2 separate regions of the Homo sapiens genome follow, and region 2 is linked to region 1. A link means that fine-mapping ties the variant in region 1 to the expression of a gene that starts in the linked region. Tissue or cell type: prefrontal cortex. Region 1 holds a variant in brackets; the other region holds the start of a gene. All regions are shown on one strand. Distances are from middle to middle. Region 1 overlaps NUB1 (negative regulator of ubiquitin like proteins 1). Region 2 holds the start of NUB1 (negative regulator of ubiquitin like proteins 1).

The links. PIP is the estimated chance that this variant, and not a neighbour inherited with it, causes the effect.
Region 2: NUB1 starts here. The variant in region 1 is fine-mapped to the expression of NUB1 in prefrontal cortex (ROSMAP, PIP 0.95).

What each region holds. Positions count from the first base shown.
Region 1 is chr7:151,357,536-151,369,607 of GRCh38, reverse strand. NUB1 (negative regulator of ubiquitin like proteins 1) reads right to left here. Exons shown (of 15, transcript NM_001243351.2): 8 at 9,361-9,467; 9 at 2,483-2,669; 10 at 1,640-1,747; 11 at 721-873. It also overlaps a transcript of WDR86 not described here. Among named protein-coding and RNA genes, the nearest start is that of NUB1, 22 kb to the right of the region's middle. The variant T/G (reference allele first, on the strand shown) is at 5,155.
Region 2 is chr7:151,337,115-151,347,031 of GRCh38, reverse strand. It overlaps NUB1 (negative regulator of ubiquitin like proteins 1), which reads right to left and starts at 5,220. Exons shown (of 15, transcript NM_001243351.2): 1 at 5,186-5,220; 2 at 1,566-1,684. The coding sequence starts at 1,682. RefSeq lists silencers at 4,951-5,130, 5,301-5,500 and enhancers at 5,098-5,599, 6,669-6,758, 6,889-6,948.

The DNA.
Region 1 (12,072 bases):
AATTCTAAGGTTTTCTTTAATGTACTTAATTGTTTCAAATGATTATAGTTTTTTAACCTGTGCTTTCATAATATAATACAACTTGTTTCTATGATTTGACTTATGTTTCTAGGCAAGGATGCAATCCCCAACTTTAATAATGACCTCATGAAAAAACAATTTTGTTTTTAAAATGACTTCCAGAAATACACTATGGTGTTAAAGAAAGAGAGAGAGGGGACCGTTTGCCACCACAGCAGGAAACAAAACTAAGGAGACTGCAGCATGTGAAAAATGATCCAATTGAAAAAGACAAGTTTCGGCCAGGCGCGGTGGCTCACACCTGTAATCCCAGGACTTTGGGAAACTGAGGTGGGCGCATCACTTGAGGTCAGGAGTTTGAGAACAGCCTGGCCAACATGGTGAAACCCCATCTTTACTAAAAATACAAAAATTAGCCAGGTGTGGTGGCACACACCTGTAATCCCAGCTACTCAGGAGGCTGAGGCACGAGAATTGCTTGAACCCGGGAGGCGGAGCTTGCAGTGAGCCAAGATCGTGCCACTGCACTCCAGCCTGGATGACAAAGTGAGACTCTGTCTCAAGAAAAAAAAAAGGACAAGTTTCTCCTTCCTTCCCAATCTGGAGTAATAAAGAGTTCCTGGTTATTAACACTCCTGTGGGATTATCTTTTTTTGTTCTTTCATACCCAAGAGAGCTAGGGCATGTGAAAGTGGGTACCTCTCTGCGGTTGGTAATATGAGTGGCCGCATGATCCACGTTCCCATCACACGCCCTCAGGCCAAGCCGGGCTTCCTGGGCAGTAAACCCCAACTGCAACAAATTGTCCACTTTTGATGGATCAATATATAGCTCTTTAAAGAGCTGACGTGCCTAGAGACAGGGAAATGTAAGAATCATGTAACCACGGCAATACTTAAAGCTTAATACAAAGTGAAAGCCTAAAAGAAATTAGATTGTATCCAATGTGAATTAAAAGGCATCAGATTTTGGATAAAATCTCTAAACTAGGCCTGTTATTAACAAGTACAAATGGAAACAGACCAACACTACCTCTACTCACATAACTTAGCCACAGCACAACACGAGGTAAGAGGCTGGGTGTTGCAGAAGTGACTGGTAACCACTTTGTTTTTGCAACAAAAGCCCCCGAATTTCAGCTGTGCACGTGGCATTTCTCACCCTCCCTTGCAGCTGGGTGTAGCCAGGTAGTGAAGTCGAAGTCAATGGCATGCAGCCACAGCGCTGGGTGCAGCTGCGGGGTCATCTCTCCAGTGGCCTGCTCTGGACTCTCTCTTGCCCCCTCTGCTGGCTGGAAGAGGCACTGACAGGAGCAACCTAGGACGCCTCGCTGAGGCTGGCGGGCTGCTCACTGCTCCGGCCTGGCTCACCTCTAGACGGCAAGATGAGTGAGCCATAAACTTCTATCCAATTAAAGTCACTGTCTTTTTGAAGTCTCATTACAGCATCTGGCTGTACTCTAACATATACAAATATGTTTCTGGTTCAACATCTCCTGTGCACGGAGAAAGCACAGGCATGTTTCTCACAAGTCACAAACTACTAAGTTAAAATCCTTAACTTCTGGGAATGTTTTTTAAAAGGAGGTGAAAATTGGTTACAACTTTACTTTTCTTACCTTGTTAAGATACTCATAAGCCTCTACATCATTTCCACTGTGATAGTTTCGGATCCCTTGAAGTAAGTAGAGTCTTAGAAACAGTACCTTCTCTTTCCCACAATTTCCCTAAAATTATTGAAGAAAAAAAGGATAAAATTGCCTTATTTCTAATTACAGGTCTATAATACTCATCTCTGTCATTCCCTTGGTCTCCAGAGGGGCAACATGATAGGTATTAAAATGTCCATGGCTTCACTATGACTGACGGCAAAAGTGAAGCCCCCTCTTCCCCATCCCCTGTGGTATGATAACATTCCTCATGCCACACAGGAGAGTCAGTGTCAGGGCACCAGCCTCCAGACATGCAGCACAGTGGCCCTTCTGGTCAGCAGAGAAGTATGCAGAAATCCAAACCAGGTATCAGAGAGTCTGCATCAGCAGGATTTTGATGACTTGGGGAAATCAGAAAAATCCTTACTCGAGCCACAGCTCTTGAGCTGTGACTCATTCACGTAAACCATTACTGCTGAAATGTCTATTTTCTGCATTTACATCTTGCAAATTAGACTCTACCGATATAAAGAAGTCAGCAGCTCTCTCCTGGTCAGGGTGATCACTGATGGGGTTCTATGACTAGCAAACCATGTTCCTTTGGGCTAAATGCTCACACGCTAAGTAAGAGAGACAGCCAGATTTGTAAAACATTGAACACTTTATAAATATATAGTTTAAAAAGACTATACTGCATACTACTATCAAAATGAAATTACCTTCTGGCAGTAGTTCAAATACTTTAACAGGAATAAACACAAATGCTAGAAATGGACTCAACGAGACATAAGATGAATTCCAGGAACATACTTTTATGTGGACCAGTCTCTGATGATTTTCTCCGTAACAATTTTTAAAGCATTTCTGGGCCAAGTTTAATTTTTTTTCTGCATCATCAAGGCATTCCAGCTGTTCCAGGCGGAAGTAACACCACACTATATCCAGCTGGAGGACGGCGTAGTTATCCACTGTGTCCAGCAGCTCTCTGCAACACTCACTGGAAAGAGAAGGACAGTGACATCACTGCCAAGCAGCATTTGAAACATTTTTAGCATTTGAAACCTTTTTGTGAATGACTGGAATTCTTTCCCCGTTCTTGGTATATATTCAAAGGCTGACTGCTCTAAAAGAGAGATCCTAATGTTTAGGAAGGGAGCTGTGTTTATAATCTCATCCTTCTAATGGGGGAAAGAAAGAGAAATCAGAAATCAGGGCTTAGGAATCAAAGCTTACCACCACTTGCCCCAGGACACACATGCAGCCCCTTGATAGGAAGCAGAACCCAGGGCCACTGTTTCAGAGGCCCTCAGCAAATACGGGGAAGACCATGCTTTAAAGCTGTGACTTCCAATCCTGACTGCAAATCAGCATCACCTGGGCCAGAGCAACGTTCTTTCTTTCTTTCTTTCTTTCTTTAAGAATCATTGATCCCACCCAGACCAAACATAACAGAAATTTCTGGGGGTTGGGCCTGGTGGTTATACTGCCAGAGTCTCCCCAGCTGATTCTAGTGTACAGCCAGGGCTGAACACCACTTCTTTAAAGACACCAAAAAAATCCCTACGTACTATGAATGCCTCAGCTGATGACGGCTCTGACAAGGCATTCATGTTCAATCATATTCAAGCTGGGGGAAAAACAATCCAGAAAGCACCAGGCTCTAACGGCCCAGCTGATTTCTGAGGGCCTGTGTGCAGGCAAAATTTGACTCCGTATTCGTGGCAGCAGGCTGAACCCAGGCGCAGCAAAGGGAAGAAAGACAGCAACAGAAGTCAGTGTGCTCCAGGAGGAGCACTGACAAAGACAGCCATCAAGGTGACTAATTTTAAGTTATGATTACATTAAAAATTCCTAATGCCAATCTAGGTCTCAAGTCTTCAATAAGAACATTTGGAACCACACATTGTATATGAACAAGGTTTTCTCTCTTTATGTTCATTGGTGTTCTACTAAAAATAAGAATGCTCTTGTATAAAACTACAAAATCCACATGGCCTCAAGCTTCCTGTCCTGCCTATCAAAATATGCATGGAATAAAAAAAAAAGGACTTTAATTTTGTCATTTACTCTTTAAAACAGTAGTCTCCTAAAGAGGGCCCATGTACACAGTCCAGTTGTGGGTGCGGCAAGAAAAATGTATCACAGCAGTATTTTTATATTTATTTTCATCTCTCTCAACATTTCTAATTTCGTGAATGTTTGAGAACACATACACCATGTTTTACACACGTGTGCACGCAGACACACAGATGTGGAGCTGGGTGAGGGGTGCTTTCTCCAAATCTACGGCTCAGCCTGAGAACCTGCCTTTGAGAGAAACAGCAGCGCTTTGTGGATTGTGGTCTGATCTCACAGTCGTGTTGAGATTTCCTGCCTCTAGGCACATTCTGGTCCCAGTGACAGAAGACTCTCCTGCCACTCGCAGGAAAGCAATGGGCATGTGGCCGAACTTCTCCATCTCCTGCATGTTGCTTTAACAGGCTCGTTCATGTTTTACTAAGCATCAAGAGCGTGGGCAGAAATGGCCTCATGTCAGTTAAAAATAAAATCAATATGCACTTATCTCAAGTTTGACCCAGGAGTGAGTATTTATTTGTGCAGCCAAAAAAAAAAAAAAGAGAGAGAAGAAAACCAACAAAATGAACAAACACACAAAAAACCCAAAGCAGAGGTCTCATATTAGAGGGGTACATGTCATCCTTTTAGTTTTGAGAAATCAACACTTATTATTATATATAAAACTATATTTAAACCTGATCATTTGCTTGGGGCAAAGTGGTTTCTTAAAGCCTGGTATAAATTGCATTTAGAAGGCTGGGTGTGGTGGCTCACACCTGTAATCTCAGCACTTTGGGAGGCCGAGGCAGGAAAATCACTTGAACCCAAGAGTTTGAGACCAGCCTGAACAACATAGAGACTCTGTCTCTAAAGAAAAAAAAAAAATTATAAAAATAAAAAATTTCATTTAGAGTGTACTTTTATTAACATTGCTTTGGTTTACAATTTTAGTAGCATTAATATTCAACACTGTTACATTTTCATGCTGACGATATTAAAATAAACGTAAAATATTTATTTAAATAAAATCTACTGAGCCTAGCTTTCAAAAAATTAAATCCTGGCCAGGCACAGTGGCTCACGCTTGTAATCCCAGCACTTTGGGAGGCCGAGGCGGGCAGATCACCTGAGGTCAGAGGGTCAAGACCAGCCTGGCCAACATGGTGAAACCCCATTTCTACAAAAATTAGCGGGGCATGATGGCGGGTGCCTGTAATCCCAGCTACTCGGGAGGCTGAGGTGGGAGAATTGCTTGAACCCAGGAGGCGGAGGTTGCAGTGAGCCGAGATCGTGCCATTGCACTCCAGCGTGGGCGACAGAGCGAGACTCCGTCTCAAAAACAACAACAACAAAAATTAAATCCCATTTGAGCTTAAGTCGGTTATTTAACAGAAATTTATTATGTTTGTCTTACAGTTTTTTTG[T/G]TTTTTTTTTTGTTTTTTTTTGTTTTTGTTTTTGAGACGGAGTCTCGCTCTCTCCTCCAGGCTGGAGTGCAGTGGTGCAATCTCGGCTCACTGCAAGCTTCGCCTCCCGGGTTCCTGCCATTCTCCTGCCTCAGCCTCTCAAGTAGCTGGGACTACAGGCGCCTGCCACCATGCCCGGCTAATTTTTTGTATTTTTAGTAGAGACGGGGTTTCGCCCTGTTAGCCAGGATGGTCTGATCTCCTGACCTCGTGATCTGCCTGCCTCGGCCTCCCATAGTGTTGGGATTACAGGCGTGAGCCACCGCGCCCGGCCAGGCTTACCTTTCTTGAAATTAATATTTATTTAACATAAAAATTTTAGGCCAGGCGCGGTGGCTCACACCTGTAATCCCAGCACTTTGGGAGGCTGAGGCGGACGGATCACCTGACGTCAGGAGTTCAAGACCATCCTGGCCAACATAGTGAAACCCCGTCTCTACTAAAAATACAAAAACTAGTCGGGAGTGGTAGTGGGCACCTGTAATCCCAGCTACTTGAGAGGCTGAGGCAGGAGAATCGCTTGAACCCAGGAGGCAGAGGTTACAGTGGGCGGAGATTGCAGTAAACTAAGATTGCGTCACTGCACTACAGCCTGGGCGACAGAGTGAGACTCCGTCTGAAAAAATAAAATAAAAAAATAAGCCAAACTTACCTAACTTTTTTCAAGAAAGGTTAGCTAAAAAGTCATTTTCAATTTTATTACTGGTTTTAGGGAATTGGATTATAGTGTGCTGTAGTGTAGTTTTTTTCTGATATTTCTTGTACTTGGGGTCATTAAAGTCATTGCATCTGGGGGTTTATAGTTTTCATCAAACTGGGAAAAATTAATGGCCATTTTTTTCTTCAAGTATTGTTTCTGTCCCACATGTCTGCCTTTCCAGGGACTCCAATTACATGCATTTTAGGCCGCCTGAAATTGTGCCACAGCTTGCAGATGCTCTGTTCATTTTTTTTTTTTTTTAGCCTTTTCTCTGTTTTTTCAGATAGTTTCTATTGCCTTATGTAACATTTAACTAATCTTCTCTTCTATAGTGTCTATTCTGCAGTTCATCCCACCTAATGTACTTTTCATCTTGGATGTTGTACTTTTCATCTCTTACATTCTAATGTGGGTCTTTTGAATGTCTCCCATGTCTTTATCTGACATGTTCAGTTGTTCCTCTGCCTTCTTCAGCAGATGGATTACAGTCACTGTTTTAATGTCCTTGTCTACTAATTCTATCTTCTGTGTCACTTCTGGATCTGTTGCTACTGACTGATTTTTTTGCTTGTTATAGGTTACATTTGCTTGTTTCTTTGCATGCCTGCTAATTTTTCAGTGGATGCTGGATATTTTTGAATTGCTAAATTATTGAGTTTTGTTAGGGATGCACTTATTTGAAAACGGTAAGTTAAGGGTACTGTTCAGGAGTAGCTTTTAAGCTTTGTTAAGTGAAACCAAATTATGCCCTAGTGCTGAGGCAACACCCTTCTGAAGACTCTATTTGACGCCCTGTGACTACCAAATCCTCCACTCTGGCTGGTGGGAACATAAACTATTCCTGGCCTTCTATGAACTCGGAGGATTATTCCCTGCTTCTTTCATGTGGTACCTTGCCCAGCCCTGGGCGGTTTCCTCACACACATGTGCTGATCATTACTGAGCAGAAGACTCAAAAGGGCTCCTCTGAAGCTCTCTGACACCCTCTCTCTGGCAGCTTGCTCCTCTCACCTCCTTGGCCTCCTGCAAGCCCAGCTCCATCTCTTTAACTCCAGGGAGCACAAGGCTCTGCCTGGGTTTGCCCTCCCTGCCCCGTAACCTGAAACTTCTCCAGACACTGAGCTCCCCTCATGTTTCCCTACCTCAGGGTCACCGTTCTGCACTGCCAGGAAGTCACTGTTTCATACAATTTGGGGAAAGAAACTATTCTTGGTCATACTACATACCATACTCCAAGACATATGGTAGGAAGTTGTGACAAAACTTCTAGCTTACTTGGAGAAGTAAGGGGGAAAAGTCAAATGGAAAAGGAAATGGAAAAACTGAAGTTTCCTCCATCTGCATTCTATTTGGCTTACATTACTGCTGATTTCCTTTATGAAAAGAGAGAAATCACACACACACAAAAATATGCTAACAAGTTGGCCAGGATAAATAGATGCCCAGGATAAATAGATGCCCAGGAAAAAAAAAACTTTCTCTACTTAGAAAGACATTGTTAATTATTATTTCATTATTATACCTACCACTTACCGGACATGTTAATGTATCATGAACTGAAGATGTAGCCAAATTTGTATTCAATGGTTCCCTGAGACCTAAAAATTATTTCAAGGATTTGTCCAGGATAAAAAGATTGAGGGAGGCTCACACAGATGTATGAAGATCAACCATGTCTTTATAACTGCAGAAGCTTAGTTATGAGTGTATATGGAAGCTCATTATACTAATTTTTATTTTTATGACTATTTGAAATTTTCCATAATAAAAAATTAGAAACAACTATGGAAGGGAATGAAAAATTTACCTAAACTTTTAGGACCTAATTTAAAGCCTGTTTACCCTACACTGTTTGCAGAAGAGAATGAAACTGACATCCAGAAAGAGGCAGAGACAGAGACCCCAGAAGCACAAACCAGCCCTCATTCTCACTATTCCCAGCCCGGCCCCTCCCCTCCCAATTCCTTTTTTGTGTACGTTAAAGTTGGGACTTGTTCACTTAGAACCCAAAGGCACTGACCAATGGAAAACTATAAATATTTGCATTCATCTTCTGGGAGTATACAGTATTATCTTGGGAATGCACCAAAACAGAAAAGAAGTTAACACTAAATTTGTTAACTTTTGACCATTTTCAAAAAATCAAGTCTACTTTTCAAATGTTGAATATGTCTGCATCATAGTCTCTTAGTACCGTTTCCCATGAAGAGGAACCAGGACTCCTTGGGAAATTGCTGATTCCTGGTCTGGGCATTAAATGCCCAAGATGAGCCTGGAGTATCTTTGGATTCCAGAAATCAGAGACTGCAAAGACTAGCAGGGTCAGGTCAAAAAAACATGGGCTGCCTGCCAGCCAGCATGACCAATTTAAGCACTGAAGTTTGAAACACATCAAATGTTTTAAATCCATGAGTTAATAATGACACTTAAGAAAATGAAAAGAAAAAGAAACCTCTTTGGTCACCTTTGGAGGGTGATAGTGAAGCAACTCATTTATTCTGAAAACAAGAAAATAAGGAGAAAGAAACAAAGTATTTTATTCTAACTTTCCTATACAAATTGTACCTCCACATATAAAATAACTGATGAGCAAAAACAAATTTTTCAGAATTCCAGCAATAAATGCAGAAGGGAGGCTGGGTGCGGTGGCTCACACCTGTAATCCCAGCACTTTGGGAGGCCAAGGCAGGAGGATCACATGAGTCCAGGAGTTCAAGATCAGCCTGAGCAACACAGGGAGACCCCATCTGTATAATTAAAAAAAAAAAAAAAAAAAAAAAGCCGACACAGCGACTCACACCTGTAATACCAGCACTTTGAGAGGCTGTGGTGGGTGGATCACTTGAGCCCAGGAGTTTGAGACTAGTATGGGCAACATAGTGAAACCTCATCTCTACAACAAATACAAAAAAATTATCTGGGCATGGTGATGTGCACCTGTGGTGATGTGCACCTGTGATCCCAGCTACTTAGGAGGCTGAGGTGGGAGGATCACTTGAGCCCAGGAGATGGAAGTTGCAGTGAGCTGAGATCATGCCACTGCATTCCAGCCTGGGTGACAGAGTGAGACTCTGTCTCAAAAAAAATAAGTACAGAAGGAATAATATCACCATTATACAGCTCTTAAACAACGGATTTGAGGAATAATCATCAATACTACCCCAAAACCATTAGGTGAAAAGCTGACAGGAAACTTTATAATGGAAAGTTCCGACTAGCAACATAGCACATGTACAGAAGAAGAGAGGATATCCTACCTGCTTGAAAATTCTTTTCTTTACAGGGAGGAAAGGTCAATTAGAAATACAAAGGGAAGAAGAAATTCACCAGTTTACACCATAACTACTCTTTTACATTAACCACTGTTGTAGATGAAAGTCTGCAGTCTCAAGGGCATGGCAGGGTGTTCTGTATAGTCTGGGCCATCTTCCTTAAAGCTGGTGTTCACCAAGTACAAAAGCGCCTACCAGAAATATTTGTCAGCGTCCAACAGACATGGCAAGGCTATTCCATATTCTTTTCTTTTCAGGAAAGCTCTGCCCTTCTCATGATATCCCATAGCTAACATAAGGGCCTAGGAAAAAATACAAATTTAAAAAACATCACTTTAAAATATAATAAGGCAAATTATATTAAAAGCATATTACTTTTTAAAAAACAAAGTAAAAAAAATGAAAACAAGATCATAACTCAATCTAAAAGCCAAAATTAAGAAAAATATAATTAATTAAAGCTTTATTTCATTTAAATACTGAAGCCAAACACTTCATTTATTATAGCTGATACAATCCTAACCAGCACTTGGCCCTTTGCTTTCATTAGTTTATTTTCGTATCCACTGATCTGGATTCTACTTCTAATATTCTATTCAGACTAAACATATTAAAAAGCAGCCAGTAATGCTTGTATCATTTTTATTTTATTTATTTTATTTTTTTGAGACGGAGTCTCATTCTGTCGTCCAGGCTGGAGGGCAGTGGTGCGATCTCGGGTCACTGCAACCTCTGCCTCCTGGGTTCAAGCGATTCTCCTGCCTCAGCCTGCCGAGCAGCTAGGACTACAGGCATGAGCCACCATGCCCGGCTAATTTCGTATTTTTAGTAGAGATGGGGTTTCACCATGTTGGCCAGGCTGGTCTCAAACTCCCGACCTCAGGTGATGTGCCGCCTTGGCCTCCCAAAATGCTGGGATTACAGGCGTGAGCCACGGTGCCCGGCTGCTTGTATCTTTAAAAAGGGCATTCATTTCACTTTCTATTCTTTTTTTTTTTTTGAGACAGAGTCTCGCTCTGTCACCCAGGCTGGAGTGCAGTGGCGCGATCTCGACTCACTGCAAGCTCCACCTCCCAGGTTCACACCATTCTCCTGCCTCAGCCTCCCAAGTAGCTGGGACTACAGGTACCCACCACCACGCCTGGCTAATTTTTTTTTTTGTATTTTTAGTAGAGACAGGGTTTCACCGTGTTAGCCAGGATGGTCTCGATCTTCTGACCTCGTGATCTGCCCGCCTCGGCCTCCCAAAGTGCTGGGATTACAGGCATGAGCCACCGTGCCCGGCCTCACTTTCTATTCTTAATCATCTAGTTTTTTCAGAAGTTGTTTGTCAACTTTAGTATTTCCAAAACAAATTTTTTTATTTTATTTTTTTTTTGAGACAGAGTCTCGCTCTGTCTTCCAGGCTGGAGTGCAGTGGCGCGATCTCGGCTCACTGCAACCTCTGCCTCCCGAGTTCACGCCATTCTTCCACCTCAGCCTCCCGAGTACCTGGGACTACAGGCGCCCACCACCACGCCTGGCTAATTTTTTTGTATTTTTAGTAGAGATGGGGTTTCATTGTGTTAGCCAGGATGGTCTCGATCTCCTGATCTTGTGATCCACCCACCTCGGCCTCCCAAAGTGCTGGGATTACAGGCGTGAGCCACCGCGCCCGGCCCCAAAACAATTTTTAAAAGGTGATCCAAAATTTTTTGAAGTTCATTAGATTTTTCAATTTAAATGTTCGCATAATTCAGTCTGATAAAGCAGTAGTCCCAACCTTTTGGCACTAGGGACTGCTTTCATGGAAGACAATTTTTCCATGGACAAGGAGGAAGGCAGATGGTTTCAGGGTGAAAACATTCTACCTCAGGTCATCAGGCATTAGATTCTCATCAGGAGTGCACAGCCTAGATCCCTCACATGCCCAGTTCACAATAGGGTTCATGCTCCTAAGACTCTAATGCCGCCGCTGATCTGACAGGAGGTGGAGCTCAGGCGGTGACGCTCACTTGCCTGCTGCTCACCTGCTATGTGGCCCAGTTCCTAACAAGCCACGGACTGGTACCCATCTGCAGCCTGTGGGGTGGGAACCCCTGTGATAAAGGTTTTCCAAAAAGATCTGGATGTCGTCATTCAATGTAAGAGAGCAGTGGGCAAGTAATCATCATTTTCAAAAGACAAACATTGGCCGGGCACAGTGGCTCACACCTGTAATCCCAGCACTTTGGGAGGCCGAGGCAGGCGGATCACGAGGTCAAGAGATTGAGACCATCTGGCCAACATGGTGAAACCCCGTCTCTACTAAAAATACAAAAATTAGCTGGGCATGGTGGCGTGCACTGTAGTCCCAGCTACTCAGGAGGCTGAGGCAGGAGAATCGCTGGAACCCGGGAGGCGGAGGTTGCAGTGAGCCAAGATTGTGCCACTGCACTCTAGCCTGATGACAGAGCGAGACTCCGCCTCACACACACACAAAAAAAGACAAACATCAATCTACTGATAACTCAAACACTGATCCACAGTTCTGTTATGAAAACAACTTTAATCCGGCCGGGCGCAGTGGCTCATGCCTGTAATCCCAGCACTTTGGGAGGCCGAGGTGGGTGGATCACCTGAGGTCAGGAGTTCAAGAACAGTCTGGCCAACATGGCGAAACCCCGTCTCTACTAAAAATACAAAAATTAGCCAGGCATGGTGGGGCACACCTGTACTCCCAGCTACTTGGGAGGCTGAGGCAGGAGAATTGCTTGAACCAGGGAGGCGAAGGCTGCAGTGAGCTGAGATCGCACCACTGCACTCCAGCCTGGGCAACAGAGTAAGACTCCTTTTCAAGAAAAAAAAAAAAAAAACTTTAATCTTTAATTTTAAACAGAGTAACTCATAGAATGAAGCCTACTCAAAACCATCCCTTAAAAACAGAAA
Region 2 (9,917 bases), 21 kb after region 1:
ACACCAACTGGAAGTCCTACGATTCAATTCTGACACTAACTACCCAGAGTTAGCGTTAGACTCCACAGGTTTAAGGGCTCAGCCCACAAAAAAGCCCTAACTTCAGATACCAGTTACCAAGTATCTGGTCCCCAGGTTACCCATACTTTTGTCTGACTTAGCTACAAAGTCGAGGGTTCACACAAGCACCCCCTTCAGGTTCCATGATTTGCTAGAACAACTCACAGAACTCCAGAAAATGGTATACTTATGAATATAGTTCATTACAAAGGATACAAATAACCATTCACATGAAGAGGTACTAAGGCAAGGTCTGGAAGGGTCCTGAGCATAGAAGCCTCTGTCCCATGGAGTTGGGGGTGTACATCCCGACATGTGGATGTGTTCACCAATTTGGAAGCTGTCCAAAATCTGTCACTTAGGGGTTTGTATGGAAGTTTCATTATGCAGGCCTGATTAAATCACTGACCATTAGTATTAGTCATCAGCTCAATCTCCCCTTCCCAGAGGTTGGAGGGGAGGGTGGAAAGTTTCAAGTGTCTAATCACGGCTTGGTACTTTTGGTGACCAGCCCCATCCTGAAGCTATCTAGGGGCAACCAAGCCTCATGAGCACAAAGGTTGCTCCTATCATGCTTACCACTTAGGAAATCCCAAGAGTTTTGGCTCTGCCAGGAACCAGGGACAAAGGTCAAATATTTTTCCTTTATGCCACACCTAGTTTCTAAACCAAGAGACTGTAACAATAAATTCAGAAGCAAGGTCAGAAGGTGGGTTGCAAAGAAAAAGTGAGGCCTGCCTGGAACAGAAGAAACAGAAGAACTAGGACCCTAATACAGTTTGTCACCTCCCAAGCACATCATTATGTCACAACACAGAGCAATTTAATGCCTCATGACAATCCTTAGTCCCTGATAAATGTTACATCATGTTCAGGATACTCTGAATGAGAGCAGAGAAGTACATGCTAGGAAATTCCAGTATGATAGATTTCTGGCAAAAATGAGTACTGTTTCTCTGCTTAGAAAAGCAAGCAGACTTCAGTTTCTAGAAACATCACTTACATACAATATCATTTCTGATGATGCCATGAAAAACTGAGATACAACTGTTAGAAAAAACCTATTTTGGAAAAATGAACACTGATAGTGAGAGCATCAAAAAAACTGGGGGAAAAAGGAGCAATTGTTTCACAGCAGATGATGATAGCAAGGAGGACCGAGAATGAGCCAAGACACTGTCACTTTGAACACACAATGCAATTACTTACTGGCACCAATACTGTTCCACTAATGGGTCAAAATGAGTTCCAGATAAATAATGTTATGTAATCCTGTGATGGTATTAAAAATATATGCCTGAAAAATTAGATAACATCCTCATGTGAATAAAATATTAATGAACAAAAATAAGGTTGTCAGTTCCTAGTAAAAAGTGGGTACCCGCTCACCACTAATGCTTTTGGTTATGCCAAAAGTTTATATGGTCATGCCTGACAATTCAGAATCTTATTTACCAAGGAGATTTATAATGCTGCTAATTATTGATGTCTTAAAAGAAAAATACCTTTAATGCCAAACCAACTTTTTTATTTTCATCTGTATATGGAGGTTTCCAAAGTTGAATCCTGTCTTCCCTTAAAAACTGGGTCAATTTTGCTTGAAGATATTTCTTTTGTGCCATCCCTGAAAGCAAAACAATACATTAATAAAACTCCACATCGCATTTTAAAATGTTAATAACTTACCTACATGTTAAGGTGCTTTGTTGGGTAAGCAAAGCTCCCTTCCTCTGTCATTAAATATAAATTACTATGGTTTAAATGAGCTCCAGACTTCTCTAAAAATATATATAGAAATATATGTTCAATTATATATATTACATATATAAAATATGTATTTCAAAGTTGCTAATATGTAGCAAGGATTATTACATGTTTCTATTTCTTAATCTGCTATTCTCTTATCTAAGAGAAAAGAGAAAATAAGAGAAAGATAAATCCCTCGAGTCGTGAACTTCTTTTTTTCTTTTTTGAGACGGAGTCTCGCTCTGTCGCCCAGGCTGGAGTGCAGTGGTGCGATCTCGGCTCACTGCAAGCTCCGCCCCCTGGGTTCAAGCAATTCCCCTGCATCAGCCTCCCTACTCACTGGGATTACAGGCATGCGCCACCACGCCCGGCTAATTTTCATATTTTTAGTAGAGACGGGGTTTCGCCATGTTGGCCAGGCTGGTCTCGAATTCCTGACCTCAAGTGATCCACCCACCTTGGTCTCAAAACGCTGGGATTACAGGCGTGAGCTTGTAAATTCTCTCATACTTTGGCTAGTTTAACATAAAACAAAAGGCCAACCATCCTGGTAGTTAAATATAAAGAAAAGCTTGCTTGAACTGTAAACTATCGATAATAAATATTTTCGGATGGGTGTGGTGGCTCAGGCCTGTAACCCCAGCACTTTGGGAGGCTGAGTTCAGGAGCTGAGGTCAGGAGTTCGAGACCAGCCTGGTCAACATGGTGAAGCCCTATCTCTACTAAAAAAAAAAAAATATATGAACAATTAGCCGGGCGTGGTGGCAGGTACCTGTAATCCCAGCTACTCGGGAGACTGAGGCAGGAGAATCGCTTGAATCCAGGAGGCAGAGGTTGTAGTGAGCCGAGATGGCACCACTGCACTCCAGCCTGGGCAACAGAGTGAGACTCCGTCTCAAAATAATAATAAATATATAAATATTTTCTATGTCAGAATTTTTTAAATTAAAAAGATTACAATACTAGGAAAATTTTGCATATTTTCTGATTAACAGCCTAACAGCACATCTACTTTTTTTTTTTTTTTTTTTTTTTTTTTTTTTTTGAGAGGGAGTCTCACTCTGTCGCCCAGGCTAGAGTGCAGTGGTACAATCTCGGCTCACTGCAAGCTCCGCCTCCCGGGTTCACGCCATTCTCCTGCCTCAGCCTCCCCAGTAGCTGGGACTACAGGCGCCCGCCACCACGCCCGGCTGATTTTTTGTATTTTTAGTAGAGATGGGGTTTCACCGTGTTGGCCAGGATGGTCTCAATCTCCTGACCTTGTGATCCGCCCGCCTCGGCCTCCCAAAGTGCTGGGATTACAGGCCTGAGCCACCGCGCCTGGCCCTACTATTCAAATCTAACACTGATCGGATCATTTTACAGCTGAGAAAATTAGGGCCCTGAGTTTGTACCATGACTCAGGCAAAGACACAAAATTAGGCAGCATCTTAACGAGCACAACTTCCACCCACAACACTGGACTCTGAACTTCCGTCATGGAGTCCCTTGCTGCTTGCCTGTTCCAGGTATGTAACTTCTCTCTCCCAGAGAAGTATGTACCGCGATGGAGCTGTCTACTCATCCCATACTAGCACAGCAATTCAAAGGTGAGTGAGGCGGCTGAGATGTAAGGCAGCTGGCAGGTGTAGCACAGCGCTTTAAGGTTTCCCAAATCAGACAAGCAATAAGTAAAGAAAAATGTTATTAGCCCCTGAATGATGAAGACAAGTTCTAGAGAGTGGAAAAAATATGAGTTAATATTACCAAGATAAATTTCTTTCTTCTATTGAGGGCCAGTATTCCACATCCCCCCAAACCCAATTCACACAACTTTGAAATCTTTGAAAACTTTGGTAGCTTGTGTATTTCATAAACAAATATTTTTTAAAAGAAAGTTCAAATCTATTTTATGTCAGTGCGGGGACAAGAATTAGGCTAATCAGGACAGGGAGGAGAAAAGAGAGGAAGGAATAACACAGCCAATGAGGCTGCTGTGTGCAACCTGGGTGGCCCATGGGAGAATCCTCCATTTTTCAAGCACTGACAAACGGCTTATCACAGCAAAGCATATTAGTACTTAGAGCGTTAGCTTTTCAAACACAAATAACTTTAAAAACTACTTTACATACTACTCATGAATCTTCAGAAATTCTGAATAAAATATCACAGCAACCCTACTGTCTCCCCACTGGGGGACAGTAATTTCACAGGCTGGTTACTGGAGCCAAGCAATTTGAAAGGCTGATGCGGTACTCAGAGATGCCATCCAAGGCCGGGCGCGGTGGCTCACACCTGTAATCCCAGCACTTGGGAGGCCGAGGCCAGTGGATCACCTGAGGTCAGGAGTTCAAGACCAGCCTGGTCAACATGGTGAAACCCCGTCTCTACTAAAAAAATAAACAAATAAAAAATTTTTAAAAAGATGCCATCCAAGCCACCACTTGACAGAAGGACGAAGGAGTGTTACAAACCCAGTGCGTGTCAGACACTCCAGGGAGCAAACAAGAGCTCCAGGGTTACACCGAATAAGATTTAATGTTAAAAAAAAATTAAACCACTGTCTTGAAACTTAAGGAACTTCAGTTATAGACAACAGAGTAAGTGGCGACATATTTTAAGTCAAGTTTAATAAGTCAGTTTTTAATTTTAACTGAAATGAGAACTGAAAAAGTTTCATGCATGCCATACAATGTTTCACATTGTAACTAAGAAAAGACGAAACTCATTAATATCACTCCGTGGTCCAAGCAGAAAGTGAAACGTTATAACGATCCTTTAAAAATTTCACTTTCACTTTTGTAATGAATCGATCATTGCTACATTTAGCCACACCTTTTCAAGTATACATTATATATAGTTGAAACACAACTATATCTAGTCAAGACACATTCATTTTTTCTTAGGAAAATGAAAGATTCTTGATTAAAAATAAAAGGGAAGGAGGTGAGAATGATAGAATCAGGTCGTCAAGGTTCGAGAAAATCAAGTGTCTTGTCATTAAATAGCAAAGAAAATCTGGCTTTGATTGCAAATAAATCCCAAATGGTATACTCGGAGTGTTACGATTCAAGTATAGCATTTGGCTAATTTTTTATAGACATATTTATTCCTTTCTCTCCCCAAACCGATACACTCAATATTTTCTTTTAAATACCCCACACCTCTGCCTAACTCAGGGCAAACCAAAGGGCCCCGAACGGCCAGCGCGTCCCGAAGCCCGGCCCACCGCTCCCGGCCCCGGCCCCGGCCCCGGCCCAGCTCCACGCATGGCTGCTCACCCCCGCCCCGCGGCCGCTCCACCCCTGGCCAGGAGAGGTGCCCAGTCGGACCGGGAACCGGGGCGCCAAGCAGTGCTGCTGAGGCTGGGGTCGAGGACACTCGGCCGCCGTGTCCTCACCTGCGCCACGCCACTCCCGCCGCGACCAGCAGAGTGCCCGGATGCGGCAGCGGCCGCCGTTTGTTTTCATTCCGGGTGAGGCCAGCCCCGCCCCCGCCGCCGCTGTCGCCTTCGCGCCGCCGCCGCCGCCGCCGCTTGGAAAGAGGGTTGTGGGCGGGGCCAAGGCGAAGCCAGCTGTGGGCGGGGATACGGTTGTGTGGGCGTGGTTACCGCGGGGCGGAGCCGCGACGGGGCGGAGCTAAGCGGAGGCGGGGCTGGGCGAGGATGTGGCCGTGTGGGGCGAGGACCTGGGAGTTGGTGTCCAACGCCACCCCAGGCTCAGTCTTCCAGGACTTCCCGCCCGGGCTCAGTTTGCCAGCCATCAAGAGGAAATGGATCCTGGCTTTGTTTCTCCAGAATCCTTGAAAGAGGCTGGGGGAAGGGTCGGGACCGTCCCAACCCGCATCTCATTCCTCAGCCTAGGCTGGACCCCTTCCCTAAACCAGCGGCTTTTCACCCCGCCCTCCACAAGCCCACCAGGGGCTTCCCTGGGGTGAAATTAGGCTGCTTCCCGGGAATTTCCTCCCCCATGCTGTCCACGGCCACTAGGGACCACAAGGCCTAGGGAGCTCTGCCTACTTCCAAGGTCCTATTCCCAAGGCTGTGCTCAACAGTGACGCTTCTATTTTATTATCAGTTATTGCTGTTAATCTCTTACTGTGCCTAATAAATTAAACTTTATCGTAGGTATGTACGTATGTATAGGAAAAATGAAGTGTGTGTATATATATAGTATATATATATGTGTGTGTATGTAAAATGGGGTGCAGTACTATCCGAGGTTTCAGGCATCCACTGTGGGTCTTGGGACACACCACCTGTGTGTGGACGAGAGGGGACTCCTGTAACCTTGCAGTGACCAATCCGTTTTTCGTTCCCTGTTGCTGCTTTCTTTAGCCCTTTTCTACCTATAAAGCCCACCTCCTCTGCCCAGCTCGTTGGAGCACCGTTTCTAAATTTTCAGAGAAGATGCCATCCTGATTCATGAATCAATAAAAACCAATAGATCTTTAATCTAAATTTGTGGTAATTTTGACTTCTGACAAAGGGATATTAATAACTGTATAACCGCACCAGACCAATCTGATTCGCCTTTTATATACCCAAGTTGTGAGTTGTTTTTCAGTTGCATGGACTCCCAGATGGAAGGTTTCGCACGTAACCTGAGGATGCCCAGGTGAACCAAGCATGCAACCAGGGGCGGAACCTGAGTGCTCAGATCAAAGCAGGGACTGAATTAAGAAATGGGCACTGCATGGTGAGATCCAGAATGCAATCAGATCAAGCCCTGGTGTCACCCCATGGCAGGGTCCAGTCAGATGAGCATCCCAGCATCACCTCATCGCAAAATCTAATCCGATCATGCGTCATTACCCTATGCTTATAAAACCCAACCCAGCCCCAAGCTCAAGGAGACAGAGCTGAGGGTTTCCTCATGTCTCCTTGACAGTCAACTCACAATAAAGCCTTTCTTTTCTCAAAAGCCCGTGCCATGGTGTTGGCTTCTAGCACATCAGGAAAAAGCCCGTTGATTGCTCAGTAGCAATTGCAGCAAGGTAGAAGGACAACAGAAACTGTTCTGACATTTTTTTCTGAGGGCTTTCTCTGAGATGAGTAACAAAGATAGTTTCACTTTTACATTTACGTAGTAGACCATCAGGAAATTGAATGTCCACGCTCAGGTGTGATGGAGCAGCTTGCAGTAGACCAAGGCTCCCACTAACAACAACTAGAAAAGCCAGAAAGCGAAGTCAGAAAACATCTGTTTGAAGGCAGTGAAAGCTGCTGAGGCAAGAATGGGGGGACTTGATATTCCAGAGAATGAGGAACCTTCAAGGGGTGAGCTAATGTCTGCAGTGGCTTGTATTGGTGTGTGAGGGCTTTTGCCAGTTCTGGATACAAGCATGAGGCTGAGAATTTAGACTTTGAGACCACAGAGGGCCACTGCTGGGGACACAAAACCAACACAGCGATGTAGGGGGAAATTCCAAGGACAATTGCTGAATTCAAGGCTTGTATGGGGCAAGAAACTGAAATGTAAATGGAAGGCCTCTGAAAGCAGAAGTTTTTGATAGACTTGCAAAACAAAGATTCGAGTCTGAGATCTGCTAGGGTGGTGGTGGAAGTGGGTTACTGCAGAGCCTACACCATGTTCCCAGTTGGAAACTGGAGGGCAACGGTAGCTTGAACCCTACCAGAACCTCAGCCCAGCCTTCACTCCATGCAGTCCCTGATTGGATTAAGGTTATTGGCCACTCCTGTCTTTGGTTTTGTGGAGGAAAGGGAAAAACCCTCCTGAGAGAATGATAACATTTGAAGCCTCTACAACTTTTTAGAAGCTATATTTGGCATCTCATTAAAAAGTTACTAGATAAAAAAAGAAAAAGACAATAGAAACAGACCCACAGATGAGTCAGATATTGGAGTTGCCTGATTAAAATAACTCTGATGAACATTTTCAAGAAAACAGAAAAAAAGATGAAAATTTTCACCTGAGTATTGAAATCTATAAAAATAAATCAAATGAAAACTCTAGAGGTGAAAAGTGTAATAAATGAGGCTGTGAACTCTGGATGTTAGACAAAACTAAAGACACGATTAGTGAACTGCAGGCACATCAATAGAAAATATCCAAACTGAAGCATAGAAGGAAAGAATGGAAAATACAGAAACAAGCATTAGAGACACATGGGACATGATGAAAAGTTCTACCAGGTATTCAGGTTTCTAGAAAAAGAGAGAAAGGGGCAGAAACAATATTTGAAAAGATAATAACCAAGAGTCCAAGTTTCGCAAAACTGATGAAAGACATCAAATTACAAATTCTGTAAGTTCTATGACTCCTAAGCAGGATAAATACAAAATCAGCCACACCCAGTGCATTCTAGTAGAACCATTGAAAACCAAGGAAAAAGATAAAATCTTAAAAGGTGCCAGGGCCAGGTACGGTGGCTCACGCTAGTAATCCCAGCACTTTGGGAGGCTGAGGCAGGTGGATCACCTGAGGTCAGGAGTTCGAGATGAGTTTGACGAATACGATGAAACCCCGTCTCTACTAAAAATACAAAACTTAGCTGGCTGTGGTGGAGGGCGCCTGTCATCCCAGCTACTTGGAAGGCCGAGGCAGGAGAATCGCTGGAACCTGGGAGATGCAGGTTGCAGTGAGCAAAGATTGCACCATTGCACTCCAGCCTGGGCAACAGATTGAGACTCCATCTCAAAAAAAAAAAAATTAATTTAATTTAATTAAACAAAAAAAAGGTGCCGGGGAAAAGATGCATTGCCTTTTAAGATTGTCAGCTGACTTCAGAAACAATAAATCCAGAAGACAATGGAATGGCATCTTTAATGTGCTAAAAGAAAATACACATGTTTAGTTCAACGTTCCTTAATATTTTAGGCAATAAGATTTATTGAGAACACAGAAATGGTGCAGACTTGTGCTTTTATCTTTGTCATGCATATGTGATGTCTTCTGGAATTAAGTTTAAAAAAGCAAAAGAAGTAAGTTATTCTGGCCTCCCATGGAGGTTTCTCAGATGGTAAGCCTACAGTGATGAGTAGCCACCTTCTTACTTCCAAGGTCACCTTAGTTTTTATTCACCCTTAAACTTAAAGTCACATGACTAATATTGTATATCGAATTCTTTTTAACATTAAAAGGGGTTAAAAAACAAACACGGATAAAACACAAACAGATGATCCTGAACTTAATTCAGTAGTACTAATACCACGGATTTATTTATTTATCATCTCTCTCCTTATTTTTTTATCTTGTTAGAGTAAGTGTATCACCTACCCAACTTTTTTTTTTTTTTTTGAGGCGGAGTCTTGCTCTGTCACCCAGGCTGGAGTGCAGTGGCACAATCTCAGCTCACTGCAAGCTCCGCCTTCCGGGTTCACGCCAATCTCCTGCCTCAGCCTCCCAAGTTGCTGGTACTACAGGCACCCACCACCATGCCCGGCTAATTTTTTGTATTTTTAGTAGAGGCGGGGTTTCACCATGTTAGCCAGGATGGTCTCGATCTCCTGACCTCGTCATCTGCCCGCCTTGGCCTCCCAAAGTGCTGGGATTACAGGTGTGAGCCACCGCGCCCAGCTGCACCTACCCAACTATTGAGACAAATGAACCTGGGTTAAAAAATTTGGACCAGAATATGTCAGAGATTCAAAACCAGAACACAAAATTTGAGGACTGATTACATGCTTCCAGAATGATTCTACCTGAATCACAGGTGAGAAGGCCAAGCCCTTTCTCACAGTGACTATGGCAACAGGAATTCATGACCTCCACTGAAATAAGGCATCCTAGCCCATGTTTCCTAGGAATCAGAGTAATCCTCCTATGCAATGACCTTGTAACTTCTTTTAGCTTCTATCATCTGTTTGGGTGATTGAAATTCTGGATTCCCAATCAGATGTGAACAACTTTTCCTCACCACTAACTTGATTTCTCTTTCTTCCATGTTCTTCATATCCAACTAAGATGCTGAATAAAATTACTATGTCTCCAAACAGCATGTTAAAAAATTATTTATGGGCTAGGAGCGGTGGCTCACGCCTGTAATCCCAGCACTTTGGGAGGCCAAGGTGGGCAGATCACGAGGTCAAGAGATTGAGACCATCCTGGCTAACATGGTGAAACCCTGTCTCTATTAAAATACAAAAATTAGCTGGGCGTGGTGGCGCATGC